Linked DNA regions of Homo sapiens: regions 1 and 3 are each linked to region 2. Evidence: fine-mapped expression QTL. A gene starts in region 2. Each other region holds a variant in brackets. All regions are shown on one strand. Distances are between the middles of the regions.

Region 1 (5,216 bases), 33 kb before region 2:
CACAGCCAGGGGCAGCAGGCCATCATGGGCAGCAGAGGTGCCAGGGCTCCTACCCTGAGGTCTGGAAGATGGTGGGGGTCACCCTGGATGATGGGGCTGGGCTGCTGGATGGGGCTGGCGGGATGGGACTGAGCACCGGCCCCGCCCATGCCTACACAGAGCTGGTGCCAGACTCCGGGAGGAGGCTTGTCCTCGGCCCCTCCTGTTCTTCACCCCCAGCCCTGCTCTGTCAGCCTCTGCCCTGCAGCATCAGAGGAGCTCTGTGCTAGCTAGGACTCACTCACTGTGCAGCCATCTCAGGTCCTTGCCCAGTGTTCCCCCTCAAACCAGGCCAGTGGGGCTGCTTTTAGATGCATGAGGCTCCCCATGTGACAGACTCCAAGGATATCTCAGTAGAGGGTAGAGACAGTCTGCATCCCCTCCGGGGCCACAGGGAAGGATGGCTGCCAGCCAGCCACAGGCTCACCAAGGAGTGGCGAGCCCTTGAGAAGAGGGATGTTGGGGGGTTGGGGGCGGTGCAGGAACCACTCGCCTTCCCGCCTTCCCACCAGCCCACCTCCTTGTGCTTACACGTGAAGCATGTGATTTCAGCTGGGAGGCCCAAGTGACCTGCCATGGGGCCTTCCCAGGTTAGGGCTGAAGTCCATGCCTGAAAAGGGTCAGCCCTGCTCAGGCCTCAGCTGGTGGGCTGCGGGTCCCAATCCTGAGGCTTGAAATGAGCATGGGGGTGCCCCACACTCGGTGCAGTGGCCGGGGTATGTGTGGGGATACCTGGCAGGCCCAAGCCCAAGGCTGTTCTCTACCCCTTTTTTTGGCTAGGGTCCTGAGAGGCAGGTGGAGGGGGACGGGCCAGGGCGCCCCTGCATTCCTCACCCGGGGCCTGCCTCTCAGGCACACCTCATCTGAACTTCATTACTCCTTCTTTTCCAGCTCCTTCCCGAACTCACAAATCCTGACGAGCTCCTGTCTTATCTGGACCCCCCCGACCTGCCGAGCAATAGTAACGATGACCTCCTGTCTCTATTTGAGAACAACTGAGGGCCACCCGGTCGGGGCCATCCCTCCACACTCTGCATCCTACCCCACCTACCCAACACACTTTTCCACCTGGGAGCCTGTGCCCTCAGACCGCCCCGCACCAGAGCCACGGGCTGTGGGGCGGGGAGCCCTCCCCCGCTGCAGCCCTCTCAGAACAGAGGGGTAGGGAGGGTGCACCAGTGCACCAGGAAGGCTGTGTGGGTCTGGAGCCCACGTCCCACCTCCACACCCTTGGCTTGGGCCCATGCCCAGCGCAGGCCTGAAGACCACCCTCCCGAGAGGAACCAGCCCGGTAAGAGGGCACACGCTGATGCGGCTTCCCGGTCCCTCCGCGTGTGCCGATTCCAGATGACCTTCCAGTGTCCCCAAGGTTCTTCCATCTTCTAGACTGTAACCCTGCCTCCCTGCTTCCTGGTCCAGAGCCTCCCTCCAGTGACTGTGGAGCCTGAGAAGGCCCCCGGGCCCCAGCATGGGCCCCGAGCCTTGGAGGAGCACTGGCAGTTGGTGGCAGTGAGACCAGCCCACCCACCACCACCCACCACAGAAAAGCACAAACCTCTGGGAAAGACAACGTCTCTCGGGGGCCAGGGGTCATCGGTTTGACCCCTGACCTATAAGCCAAGATACCCCATAAACACACTCAGAAAGCAGAGAAAAAGGACAAGAGTCTGTGTTTGAGAGGGGGTCTGCCATTCCTGCTTGGGGACTGGTGGGGAAGAGGGCCAGGACATCTTCTGAGCCAGGACGTCCCTGAGGCTCCACCTCCAAGCTCAGACAGGGCCCAGGCTTGGGGAACAGAGAGAGCAGGTGTACACCCAACCAAAGTGATTGTGCCCTTGGTTGGGGGGCGCGGGCATATAACCTGTCAGAAGCAAACAGGAGCGGCAACTTCTAACTTTGCTCCAAGCCACTCTCTTTTTAAACAGCAACAATTTAAAGCTATGAAGTCACCTGGAGAAAAGGAACGTTGCTCTTGGACAGCAAGCAAACCATTTCTCTCCGTCTGTT[C/G]TGTTTTTCTCCTAGTCCCTCTCCTGCCACCTCTCCAAGACTTCCGTGGGACACCCACTTCCCTCTGTCCTAGTTCTCTTTGTCCAATCAGATGGCAAGGGCAGTGCGTGGAAAGGCCGGGGAGGTGCAGAAACCAGAGCCCAGGGCAATGGTGTCTGTCCAGCCCCTCCCTCTGTCCCTGTGCTCCAAGCTGCCCCCGGCTGCAGCCCAGGCCATGGACATGTGCACCAGTATGTACCTGCAGGCATGGGGGGGAGGGGGGCGTGTTTCTGGGCCTGCCCCAGACACTGCCCTTGGCTGCCAGCCTACCCTGCCTGCACTCCTCCACCATCACAATCTCACCCAAACTCCTGCTCACTCAAGCAAAAGCAGCCTCTGGCCTTCCCTCCACCGCTTTGCTCCATCTGGCTTACCACTCTCCAGGGCCTCCTGGGGAGCCTGTCCTGTGTTCACTTTGTTTCAGGCTGGTCTGTGCCCCGTGAGCCACATGGCCTAGGGTGATGCCAGGTTGTCCCGTCACTGGGGTCCCATCTGTAAATTCTTTGCGCCCTTCCCGGCTGCTGCCTGGGGCCCTTTCCTGCTCTCCCGTCCGCTGTGGGTGGTCCCCAGCTCTCCTCTGTGGGTTTTACCGGAAAGGTGGCCCCAGCTGTTGACTTCCAGTCACTGTCCCAGACGGCACAAGGTTTTCTGTAGGAAAGCTGCCATTGCCCCGGCCCCTTTTCTTCCTTTGTCCCGTTGTCGAGGTTTTTTCAAATAGCGTGTTGTTCAGTATGCAAATCAATTATTTTAAGAATCGCTTTTGTAAATATCTTTGTGAATATTTTAGTATCGTCTTTGATAATATTCAACATTTTCATGACCTGGTTATAGCCTTTGCTGGTGTTTTTAAAATACCTGGACTCAATGACAAAGACCGAGTCTTCTTTTTTTTTAAACAAAAACAAAAAAAGCAACCAGGGCTATTTGTACAGTTGAAGGGGTGAACAGAATGGGCGGCTGTGCTGGGAGTTGGAAGACCGGGCAGCCCGCTATTTAGAGCCATCCCTCAGTCAGCTGGCAGGGACAAGCCAACGCCAGGTAGCATGTGGCCACCCTTGCCCAGTGTCTGTGGCCTGGCAAGTGGCCACGCCCTGTGTCAGACCATCTGGGAATTAAGCTCCAGACAGACTTACAGATGCCTTCCTTAGGAGTTCTTGCTTCTTGCGTTGATACTTTGCCCCAGAAAGGCCTGGGATTCATTCTGGTTCTTATCAGGGTGTGTCCACACTCTGCTCACAGGTGGATCCACGGCTTTCCAGTGCGGAGAGTCGAGATGCTCCCTGCAGCCCAGGCCCCGGGCACCTCCTGCAACCATCTCTGGGCTCAGCACCTGAGGCGGGTTTCCTGGGTCCCCTCTCCAGCAAGCCTCCACCAGCAAGCTCGGCCCAGAGCTTCCCTTCCGGCTGGCTCTGAACCGTGCGTGGTGCCTACAGCCTGCAGTCTGGAGACAAGCTCTTCCGGAGTGCTCTGGGAGCCAGGCCAGGGTGTGAGGGAGGTGCAGAGGCATCCGGGGCGGGAGCAAGCCCCAGGTTGTGACAGGTGCAGGTAGACAACGCCCATAAACAGAGATGGTCCTGAACTCTGGAGAGATCCTTCCCTGATCCTTTCGGACGACTACTTGGAGCCATAAGTAACCTCAGCAAAAACGAGGCCTCTGCAAGCCACTTTTCCATGCCAAGCATCCACCCGGCCCACAGGCATGTTTCTGCCGCCACTCCGCAAGATGGACAGGGAGCCAGCAGGCAGGCGGGAAGGGCCAAGTACAGGCAATCACCCCCATCTTCTTGGTTTGAAGCTTTATCCATGTATCATGTTCCGTGTAGCCATTTTATTTTTTAAGAAACTGCTAATACTTTCTCCCTAATGGAAGCCCTGATCCCCCAGAGAGCTACAGGTCTGCTCCCGACGGGCCTCGGGCCTGACCCGTCCACACAGGGCCGTGTCAACAGCAGCGACTCAAGGGACGTGTGTACATATGTAAATGAGAAATAGAGACGTGTCAACAGATGCATTCATTTCTCTTGGAATGTGTATTGTTTTTATTTTGCGAAACAAAACAAAACAAAAAAAAAAGCTTGGAACTCCATCACGTGGAAAAACTAGATCCTGTTGGTTATAGCATTTGTGAGTTCTCCACGTCTGTCTCTCTCGCTCATGTAATATACTCTGACCCTGAGTGGAAAGGGGTTTTTGTTCTGTTTTTATTTTACCTACATGTACTATTTAGCTTCAGTGTACTAGTCCTGCCACCTGTGTATTTTTAGGGTGCTATGGAAATAATGAAAAGAAACGGGGATTTCAGAAGAAAATTGTAACCAAATTCATACTTTGTATAATTTTTGATATCATGATCACAGGTGATTCACACGTACACACATAAACACACCCACCAGTGCAGCCTGAAGTAACTCCCACAGAAACCATCATCGTCTTTGTACATCGTATGTACAATGCAATCATTTCATACTTTAAACTGGTCAAAAAACTAATTGTGATTTCTAGTCTTGCAAAGCTGTATGTAGTTAGATGATGTGACAACCTCTAATATTTATCTAATAAATATGTATTCAGATGAAACCTGTATATTAGGTGTTCATGTGGTTATTTTGTATTTAAAGATCAAATTATTTGACTATTGCTAGACATTTCTATACTCTGTTGTAACACTGAGGTATCTCATTTGCCCATGTTAATTTTTTTCTAAATAAATTGACAAAAACAAAGGTTTGGCGAATTAGCTATTTTGTGGATGTTAAGGAGTGGTTTGGGTGTTTTTGCTTTTGTTTTAAACCACACCCCCCGCCCTGTTACCCTCTGCACACACAAAAAAGAAAGGCAGGTGGTTTGGGTGTTGAATTGGAAGAACCCCTGTCCATGGGGGTCCCTGGAACCAGTCCCTGGTGGGGCAAGTGCAGTGTGTGGCCGGATGGTTGGGGGAGTTGGGGTGGCTGAATAGGGCCAGGTGGCTGCAGGGTGCTAGGGGCCCCTGTGGCATGTGACTCAGAGTGTGCAACAGTGTCCCATCTTTGATGGTCCCTTGTGGATTATGCTGGGTTTAAGTAGCAGGAAGCTATTCATATTAAGCCACAGAGGGTGCTGTTCAGAGCACACAGGAGTGTGGCTTCAATGGA
Region 2 (5,216 bases):
CCTGCCTGATGTCACCTGGGCCCGGAGCCCTCAAGGGCTGGGCATGTGTTCAGCTCATGGCTTAGCCTATAGACTATCCTTCTTCCTGATACCACTGAGAACAGAACAGGAAGGGATGACATCATAGCTAAGCCTTTGGGGAAGGTAGGCTTTTCTCTGGCTTAGGAGGTAGTGATGACGTTTGATTTTCCAAAGAGAGTGGAAGGAGTAACATGAATGAAAGAAGCTGGTTCCCAGTCCAGAGTCCTCAGCATGGAGTCTTTGCACTATTCATGGCTCCCCAGTGCTATCCAACAATGTCAGACCTCAGCCAGGCCTTCAGAGCCCTCTGTGATTGGGTCCCCACAGGCCTTTCAGCTCATGCTCACTATTAAAACCATCTCCCTAGTCCCTGAGCTCCATAGCCCCCTGGCCAACTCCACCGTTTCTATCTTACTGTGTTGTCTGCCCAGGCTTATCTCTCTTGCCTCCCCACCCTGTCCCAAGGACCAGCTTCGTGGTGAGAGTGAGAAGGGTTTGACATGCAATAACCCTGATTGTGAAGTCAGACAGACTGGTCCCAGTTCCAACAGCCTGCCCTTGGGCAATTCACTCCCCAGCCCCTGGGGCCTGGCTTCCCCATCTGCAAAACAGAGCTGTCTCTCAGGCAGAGTTCACAGCTGGGAAAGGGTTCTGAGAACTGAAGTGGTCAAGTGAATGAAGGCAGCACTCCCCTGGGGTGGGGATGCTCATGCTTCATCAGGATGGGGCATAAACTGAGTCCCCCCAGGAGCAGGCTTGAGAAACAACAGGGTACGCTGAGCTACCTGCTGTGGCTGAAGGTCCTGTGAGCTCAGGGCCTGGAACTGGCCGCAGGGAAGCCTGGGGCCTTAAGGAAGCTTCATGACAAGGCACATGGCGTGATTCCTCCACTCTCAAATCCACAGGATGCACTGGTAGAGGAAGGTCTGGGACATGTGCTGAGGGCTCAAGTGGGCTCCCCACTCAGGCCTGCTCACCTCAGGGCACAATCATAAGAAAGGAGGGGCTGCTCCCCAGGGCAGAGTGAGGCCCCATTCTGGGCTGGGACCTGGAATGCATCCCACCTGGGCTTCACTGGGTGCCTAGGCCCCTCCTAGGCCAGGAATCGGAGAAGGGGGCTATGAACTTCCAGAAGCCAAGCTAGCCAAACTTCCAGAGGCCAAGCTAGCATTCTTATGAAGCTAGGGCACTGCTCTGACCTCATGAATTTGCTTGGCTGGCATTTTGCTGCCTGACCTGTTCCCATGAGCCCATTCAGGATCTGGGGCAGGTCAGTCCAGAGCTGGTCCCTACTCCTGCCCACCTGCCTCCAAGGCTCAGCCCCACCCCTTTCTCTGACCCCTCAGGCCTCTAACTGAGACCGCAGCTCTCTGAATCCCAAACTGTGAGAAAGACAGTCCAGACTCTGTCCATCACAGATGCCCACAGGCACAGTACTTAGTTGACAAATCCATGTCTCTCTCGTTCATTTTATCCTAAGAACAGACACGAGAAAAAAGCAGGATGAGGAGCATGATCGCACCCTTACCCTCCAGATGGGAAACTGAGGCCCAGAGAGGCCTGGAGCACTGGTGCAAGCTGGTAGCAATACTCCAGGGCTCCCTAGCCCTAGCCAGTGCCTTCCTGTGTCCAGGCCTCAGCTTCCCCTGGGGACAGTACAAGTGTTGGGCCAGATGCTCTCTCAGGTCCCTGCGTGGCATCCATTTATTGCAGACCTCCCACCACCTTGCAGTGAGGGTGGCTCTGGCTGCTGGGAAGCCCACTTTCAGCACGTGGGGTTTAAATGCTCCTGCTGTGGGTCTCCCCACTGAGTCCCCTCCCAGGGTGCATGCTGATGGGAGGGGGCAGCTGGCAGTCTGCCCCGGGGCTGTCAGTGTGGGTCCTAGGAGGAGGGATCAGACCCAGTCCTGGGGAGGGCTGGGGGCCTGAAAGGAGCATGATGAGCCCAGGCTGCGTTTTCAGTCTTGCTAGAAGCAGGTCTGGTCCCCAGAAACAACTAGAGACAGGCCCAGGCCGGGACAAGCAGGCTAGGGGGCATCATGGGAGGTGTCTCAGCTTATCTCCTCCCTCTTGCGCCTCTAGCTCACTAATCCCGCCTCTCATCTCACCTTTCTCTAACCCTCTCAGACTGCAGGACCTAGGGCAGCAGGGAAGCTTATTTGGCCTGAGCCTTACCTGCAAAGGGCTCAAAGGTAGACTTTTGCTATTATATTCAAATTGCAACGTATAGATGCTCATATTTTGGAATTAATTACGTTTTAGCAGTTTTTCTTTTTTTAAAAAAATCTGCTGGTACCTTAATAAACATGGAACCAGCAACCTTTTGCCAGGTGTCTGTTCTCCGGGTCTCTGGGCCTGGAGGCGGGAGTGTTTCAAAGCACTTCACGCTCCGCGGCCCCACCGGCTGGCTGCGCTGCCCGCTGCGGCCGGCAGGGGTAGTCCACGGACAGGCCTGGAGGAGGCGGGACGGGGGCAGGGCCGGGAACCTGGGCAAGCCAATAAAGGCTGCGGCGCGCGGCTGCGCGGGACTCGGCCTTCTGGGCGCGCGCGACGTCAGTTTGAGTTCTGTGTTCTCCCCGCCCGTGTCCCGCCCGACCCGCGCCCGCGATGCTGGCGCTGCGCTGCGGCTCCCGCTGGCTCGGCCTGCTCTCCGTCCCGCGCTCCGTGCCGCTGCGCCTCCCCGCGGCCCGCGCCTGCAGCAAGGGCTCCGGCGACCCGTCCTCTTCCTCCTCCTCCGGGAACCCGCTCGTGTACCTGGACGTGGACGCCAACGGGAAGCCGCTCGGCCGCGTGGTGCTGGAGGTGAGACCGCTCGCAGGGCCGGCCTGGGCGCGGGACACGGGCCCGGGGAGAGCCCTGGGCCCCGGGCGGCGCGGTGCCGGGCGCGCTGGGTGACCTTGGGCCTCCCCATGCCGAGCTCTGGGCCTCAGTTTCCCCATTTCTGAGAATGGGCGTCAGAATGATTTCTTCCGGCCTCCCTCGGAGCACTGGAGCGGGGGAGACGGGAGGGAGGGCACGTGTGGAGGAGAAAGCTCAAGGTCAGATCGCAGAGAGGGAGGGCTCAGCACCTCTGGGCCGGCCCGGGCACGAGGGAGGGGCTCCAGGAGCCTTCTGGGGCTGAGCCTAGATCCGGAGCTCCGAGGTGGGTGTCGGGGGTCTTGGGGTGAGCGTCGTGGCCCAGCGGGTGCTCACGTGGCGGCCCTTGCACAACACGGAGCGCTTCCTGGCTCCGGCCCCGCCCCTGCGGTCGGGCTCACACTGGGGGTGCTGGGAAATGGAGCGAGAGGTGGTTTCCAGCAGTAGTGCGGGCCCAGTAGGCCTCAGGCCCCGGCCACCTGGTGGACCCCAGAATGCCCCTCCTGCGAGTCGGGACACACTCAGAGACAGTGTGCCCGGCGCCTCAACCCCTGCCACTGTCCTTGGGGGCCACACTGAGCACCTCCCCTAACTCTGTTTTTGGGTCTTTTCTAAAGCAAAGTAAGAAACAGTCACCAGGGTAGCTTTAGAGGGAAAGCCCTAGTGGAGCCTTCAGGTCGGCCACACATTGACAGCAGGGGTCTGTTTGTGTTGACTGGCCCGTATCCCAGGGAGCCCTTAGTATTTCTTCTTCATTCTCAGTTTCTTCTGGAAAATAGGGACACCCTTCCTGCTTCCATTTGGTTCCAGGGTGGGTCTTGCAGCTTCGAGGGTAGAGGCTGGCTGGGATGGGGCTTCAGCCTTCCCTCCCCACACCCTCATGCCTCTCCCTGGGCCTCAGTTTCCCAACCCCGAATGGAGGAGCTGGTCTGGCTTCTACCTTAGACACACTCTCTTGTCCCTGAATTTCTGATGCTTTGGGCCCAGCTGTGGGAGCACTGCCAGCTGTGTCCACAGAAGTAGGCCAAGATAGCATTGTCATCTCTTCTGACAGATTAGGAAACCAAGGCCACCTCCTCCAGCCTTGGGTTCAGGAAACGGCTCCCAGAAATGATAGAGCTGCCTCCCATGGGGGTTGGCAATAATGGGAATGGAATGTCCACGTGCTTCTTCCTTAGCCTCCTTGGCCACTGTGGGGGTGGGTGGGTGCTGAGAGACACCCACCTTCACCTGCCTCTCCAATGACCATCCTCTTTTGTCCTTCTTCTCCCCCAACAGCTGAAGGCAGATGTCGTCCCAAAGACAGCTGGTAAGACAGGGCCTGGGGCCTTCTGAGATGGGTCTAGAGGGAAGGGGGCCAGGCAGGGCAAGGTGGGTGGCGTGATGAGAAGAGTCGGGGCTCAGAGACCCCTGACAGATGGGAGCTCCATGTGTGGCTCAGCCATTGGGTGCTCTGGGGCAGCCCTGCCATCCCTCTCTGGGCCTCAACGTTGGCTCTGCCCTCCTCTCTCATAGTAGCTGGGAGCCTCAGAGCCAGTGGAAGGCACATGTAAATTTCCCGGAGACTTCCCCACTCCTGGTGCCCAGTGAGGCAGGGTGATGGGCACACAGCCCTTGAGTCCGTGCCCTGCTGGCCAGCACAGCCATGAGCCTGTACTCTTGTCACAGTGCTCAGGTACTGAGGACAGGGAAGGGGAGTGACTTGTCCAGTTACATAGCGAGTTGGGCAGAGCAGACCCAAGAGGTGGGCCAGAGTCTTTATCCCCCTGTTCACTGCTGGGGATGTAGCAGGGATTTTGGCTGGAACGGGTATGACCCTGGAATTGGGGCCTGGCCCTGTTGACCTGTGTTTCTCTTCGACCCTCAGAGAACTTCAGAGCCCTGTGCACTGGTGAGAAGGGCTTCGGCTACAAAGGCTCCACCTTCCACAGGGTGATCCCTTCCTTCATGTGCCAGGTAATGTAGTTTCCTCTTCTGTAAGGGGGGATGAGAGCAGGAGCTGCCTTGTGGGTGTGTGAAGATGCCTGGTATGAGGAAGGTGCTGAGCAGAGCAGCTGCAGTTGCTCTGTCAGCCAGGCTGCCCTCCCTGCATTAGCCCTGTATCCAGGCTTCACTGCACATGGAAGCCCAGCCCCAACCCGCTGCCACTCCAGGTCAGTGGCAGGCCCTGCCCGGGGGACTGGGAGGTGGAGTCTATCAAGAGAGAGCTGGGTTGGGAGATGGATGTGCTGGGGGTGGCCTTGAAGACTTTGAAGAGCCAGCATATTCCAGTGGTCTCTGACCTTGTCCCCTGTGTGCCCCTGAGCACTGGTGTGGGAGATAAGAGAGGGAGAGAGAGA
Region 3 (5,216 bases), 32 kb after region 2:
GGGCTGTGCATGTATGAATATGTGCAGGCTTGAGTGTGCAAATGGGTGTGTATGTGAGGGTGTCAACAGTGTGAGATGTGTATGAGTGCATGTGTGAGATGCATGTGAGTGCGTGTGTGAGATGTGTGTGTGGGTGTGAGATTGTGTGTGCATGTGTGAGTGCACGTGTGAGATGTGAGTGCCTGTGTGAGATGTGTGTGTGAGATGTGTGTGTACGTGTGAGATGTAAGTGCGTGTGTGAGATTTGTGAGTGCATGTGTGAGATGTGTGTGCACGTGTGAGATGTGTGAGTGCATGTGTGAGATGTGTGTGCACATGTGTGTGGGTGTGAGATGTGTGAGTGCAGGTGTGAGATGTGAGTGCGTGTGTGAGATGTGTGTGCACGTGAGATGTGTGAGGGTGTGCATGTGAGATGTGTGTGAGTGCACTGCAAGATGTGTGTGTGCATGTGGGAGATGTGAGTGCGTGTGTGAGGTGTGTGCACATGAGATGTGTGAGGGTGTGCATGTGAGGTGTGAGTGCACATGTGAGGTGTGTGGGTGTGCATATGAGGTGTGAGGATGCATGTGTGAGATGTGTGAGGGTGTGCGTGTGAGGTGTGTGGGTGTGCATGTGAGATATGAGTGCACGTGTGAGAAGTGAGTGCACATGTGAGATGTGTGAGGGTACACGTGTGAGATGTGTGTGGGTGCGCATGTGAGATGTGAGTGCGCATGTGAGTTGTGTGAGGGTGCGTGTGAGATGTGTGCATGCGTGTGTGAGATGTGAGGGTGCGTGTGTGATGTGTGGGTGCACGTGTGAGATGTAAGAGGGTGCATGTGTGAGATGTGTGAGGGTGCACATGTGAGATATGTATGTGGGTGCGTGAGTTGTGTATGAGTGCGCGTGTGAGATGTGTGTGAGTGCGCGTGTGACATTTGAGGGTGCGAATGTGAGATGTGTGAGGGTGCACGTGTGAGATGAGGGTCTGTGTGTGAGATGTGTGAAGGTGCACACGGGAGATGTGTGAGGGTGCGCATGTGAGATGTGTGAGGGTGCACGTGTGAGACGTGTGGGTGCGCGTGTGAGATGTGAGTGCACGTGTGAGATTTGTGGGTGCGTGTGTGAGATTTGTGGGTACACGTGTGATATGTGAGTGTGCGTGTGAGATGTGAGTGCGCATGTGAGATGTGAGGGTGCACATGTGAGATGTGTGAGGATTCACGTGTGAGATGTGAGGGTGCATGTGTGAGATGTGGGTGTGTGAGATGTGTGAGGGTGCACGTGTGCGGTGTGGGTGCGTGTGTGAGATGTGTGAGTGCACGTGTGAGATTTGTGGGTGCACGTGTGAGATGTGTGAGTGCGCATGTGAGATGTGTGGGTGCACGTGCGAGATGTGTGGGTGTGTGAGATGTGTGTATGAGATGTGAATGCATGTGTAAGATGTGTGAGGGAGCACGTGTGAGATGTGTGAGTGCATGTGCGAGATGTGTGGGTGTGTGAGATGTGTGTGAGAGATGTGAGTGCACGTGTGAGATGTGTGGGTGCGTGTGTGAGATGTGTGTGGGTGTGTGTGTGAGATGTGCGAGGATGCGTGTGAGGTGTGTGAGCATGTGAGATGTGAGTGCACTGTGAGATGTGAGGGTGCACGTGTGAGCTGTGTGGGTGTGCACATATGAGATGTGTGAGTGCACGTGTGAGATGTGTGTGGGTGCATGTGTGATGTGTATGGGATGTGAGTGAGCGTGTGAGATGTATGGGTGCACGTGTGAGATGTGTGTGAATGTACGTGTGGATGTGTGAGTGTGCGCATGAAATGTGTGTGGGTGCGTGTGAGATGTGTGTGTGCGTGTGAGATGTGTGAGGGTGCCCGTGTGAGATGTGTGTGTGTGAGATGTGTGAGGGTGTGGGTGTGAGATGTGTGAGTGTGTGTGTGAGATGTGCGAAGGTGCGCGTGTGAGATGTGTGAGGATGCGTGTGTGTGTGGGCAGGGGGAAGCAAGTGGCCCTGACATCTCAGTTGGGATCCAGCCTCAGAACAAACGGCAGGGAAAGTGTCGAGAGTGGCCTTTATACCCAAGCGCAGCCCGTTCTTGGCTCCCTCCAGTTCTCTGGGGGAGTAGCAAGGACACCTGACTTTGGAGAGATGGCAAGCCCACCTCGGCCCTCATTCCCTTCATCTGGGGTATTCCCTGCCCCTTCTCCCCACTTCCAAACACCTGGGCAGGAGCCGGGCACAGGCTGCACAGGAGGCAGCCCCTGGAAGGGTGGCATTCAGATGCCTAGCCCTGGGTTTACCAGGCTGTAGGGAGGAGGACCAGGGTCTCTGAGGAGGGCAGGTGGGGGCTTGACTCCCCAGCAGACTATGGGTCCCAGGCTTAGCTCAGAGCTCTGGGCCAGGTCCCAGGACACACTGACAGACAGCTGTTTGCTGAAGGAAGGACTGGACAGGCTGGTGGGAATCCGCTCGGTGGCCCTGGTCAGGATCGGAAACAGCGCAGACAGTGGAGGTTGAAGGGTGTGGTGGAGGTCCCTGCTTGTCAATCTGGGGCAGCAGGGCTTCCCCAGGCCTCAGTTTATGCACCCGACATACTGACATGTTGTTCTCTGCCCTGGCTTCTGCCAGGACTGTTAGGAGGATGCATGAGGCCAGAAAACCGGGAGGAACTCCAGCCTATGGCCGGAGTCCAGCGCAGAAGCCGGCTGGTAGCCTGAGCCTGGGAGCTTCAGCACCACAGTGGGGGCTGGTGGGAGAGAGGTGGCCACCCCAGGGCTGTGTGCGGGAGCTGCCCAGGTGTCTCCTGCCACTCAGTGTGTCCTGATTGCCCCCAGCTTACAGATAAGGACATGAGGCTCTGTGTCACACATTCCAAGTAGAGCCTTGTCAGGGTCCTGCCAGGGGGGGCCCTGGGCTCCCGATGGGCTCTGGTGCTCAGGCGGTTGAGCTCCCGCTGTCTCTCCCCAGGCCAGGTCTCCCCTCTCTGTGTCTGGAGCAGATGCCAAGGGGGCTCCTCACAACCTGGCAACCATCACCACTTGGCACC[A/G]ACCTACCCCACCTCCCTTCCTCCTGCCTGGTCTCTTGCCCTTTGAGACCACCCAGCCCTGGACCCTCACTCCTGGTCTGACCTTTGCAACTCTGTGTCTGTCCCAGCTCTGCCCTGATACGCTGCACTGGGAGGTGAGAACTCCAAGTTCAATCAAATCCTGGCTCTGCCACCTGCCTGCTGGGTGAGTGTGCTAGGTGAGACCTTTCCCGGTGGGGCCTCAGCTTTAGCCCAGAGCAGGGCCACCCTCTCTGGATCCCTTGCCGGCCATTTCTTTGGTGGACTCTGCTCTCTCCTGGGTCCTCAGCAGCCAGCTGCCTCTGGATATGGGCACTGAGTCCAACCGGAAATCCTTCCTGTCCAGGGAGTTACTGGTTTCCACGGCTCCAGGAGATGTTGAAATGCAGGCTGTTTGCCTTGGGTTTGTGTTCTTTCCACAGAAAACAAAACAAAACAAACACACAGGCGCATGCACACTGCCACACACTCAAAGACAAGGGCATGTCATCAAATAACAGCCCTGAAGCCCCAGCCTCAACATGCATGGGTGCCCAGTCAATGCTTACTGGGTGCGCAAAAGCACCTGGGGCCCTGGGTTCGAGGCCTGGCTCCCTGCGGAATCCCTGGTGTGATCACTGGTCGGATGCTTCTGCCTGAGCCACAGACAGTGGGAACAGGAGACCCACACTCCCCGGGCCCCTCCTGGGTGCAAGCAGTGCGCTTTGTCTTGTGTTCAGTGGGTTGTCTTATCCACACAACACCCCGGGGAGAGCTGGGGCTTGGAGAGGGGGAAAGCCACCCAGTGTCACACAGCTGGGGTGGCAGGGCTGGCCTGGTGGCAGTGCTGAAGGGGACAGGAGGACCCTGAGACAGACACCGGCTCTGTTTCCTCAGATCTGCCCAAGAAGAGCAATAGCCCCACCCAGGCTGCTGGAGGACTTGAGCTGGCAGAGGGCATGGTGTGGAGGAGGGGGTCCATTCTCCTCTCACCCTGGCGGAGATGGGTCCCCTCTCCACTCCCTTGCTGGGCCCGACTGGCAGCCACCTGCTTTCAGGCCAGTGACTCTGGCCATTCCACACACTGAGGGCAGGCACCGCGCAGGGAATTCTCTAGATGCAAATCAGCAGGAAGGGGCTTTGTTCTGGGATTTGCTCTGTACCCCAAATAAGACAGGAGGTCTGGCCTTGGTGGCCTCTGTTCCTGCCTTTCCCTCCCCCTTCACATCCATGGTCCCTGACCCCAAGGACTGGCATTTTGTTTTCTCTGCTCCATCTCAGAGGCCACAGTCAGGGGCCGTGGGATGGCCCATAGGGATGTGCTTTGACTTCTACACTATTCAAAAATCCAGTTAACTCTTTAACTCGTTGCCAAAATTTAAAACATGGAAAATTTCACATAACAACTGGGATTTCCAGTTTTTCTCCTGCTGCCCCTCCCTCCCTCCCCAGGCAACAACATTCATAGATAGCAACAGTTGGCTGGAGCTGAGGACCGGGCGCCCCCTTGACAGGACTCTCTGCCCCCTGCCTCCTCCCCATCACCGTGGGTCCCACAGGAACACTAGGGACCATCTGAAGTCCAGTGCTGCTCAACTTTGGATGCACAATGGACTGAGCTGGGGGGCTTTACAAACTCAGACACCCTGGACCACTTCCTTGGCCTCCCTGGGGTGGGACCAAGGCATGATGTTCTTAAAGCCCCGCAGGTGACTCAGGTGAGCAGCAAGGTTGAGAACAGCAAGAGCCGATGCTGGGCTTTGCAGGTGGGTGGCTGCTGATAGTCTTGCTTCGTTGTGGTTCCCCATGACCCTCAGCAGGAGCCCCACCTCATGACAGCCCAGGCTTTGGTCAGAAGAGGGGCCCCTGCCCCGTCTCCCCTGGACTGATCTGTTTGCTCACTGTGTGATGCTCCCTGTCTGGGCCCATATCCTGATCTTGGCCGAGTGTGCCAAGTGGGAGCGGCCCAGGGCTGCCGTCTCTGAGGCAGATTCACTCCTATATATGGTCACCCGGGAGTCCCCCCGCTGAGTGAACGCGTGACCTCATCTGCCGACAATCTCACCCAGTCTGGGGCCAACCTGGGGAGGGCCGTTGCCCTGGAGAGTGTACAGTTGGGGGCAGAGAGGCTGGGAGGAGGCAAATCAATGGCATGGAGGCAGGGCAATGACAAGATGACCCAGACCCAGGGGAGCTG

The links.
Region 1: its variant is fine-mapped to the expression of PPIF in whole blood (TOPMed, PIP above 0.99).
Region 3: its variant is fine-mapped to the expression of PPIF in blood mononuclear cells (TOPMed, PIP above 0.99).

Annotation. Positions count from the first base shown.
Region 1 is chr10:79,311,712-79,316,927 of GRCh38, forward strand. It overlaps ZMIZ1 (zinc finger MIZ-type containing 1), which reads left to right. Exons shown (of 25, transcript NM_020338.4): 25 at 931-4,808. The coding sequence ends at 1,038. Among named protein-coding and RNA genes, the nearest start is that of PPIF, 33 kb to the right of the region's middle. RefSeq lists enhancers at 69-569, 1,327-1,826 and cis regulatory regions at 4,868-5,216, 4,894-5,216, 4,900-5,216. The variant C/G (reference allele first, on the strand shown) is at 2,047.
Region 2 is chr10:79,344,921-79,350,136 of GRCh38, forward strand. PPIF (peptidylprolyl isomerase F) reads left to right here and starts at 2,549. Exons shown (of 6, transcript NM_005729.4): 1 at 2,549-2,823; 2 at 4,156-4,186; 3 at 4,745-4,833. The coding sequence starts at 2,629. RefSeq lists cis regulatory regions at 2,216-2,793, 2,293-3,334, 2,293-2,966, 2,293-2,844, 2,293-2,843 and 5 more, silencers at 2,323-2,732, 2,753-2,982 and an enhancer at 4,297-4,797.
Region 3 is chr10:79,377,009-79,382,224 of GRCh38, forward strand. No RefSeq gene overlaps it. Among named protein-coding and RNA genes, the nearest start is that of PPIF, 32 kb to the left of the region's middle. The variant A/G (reference allele first, on the strand shown) is at 3,023.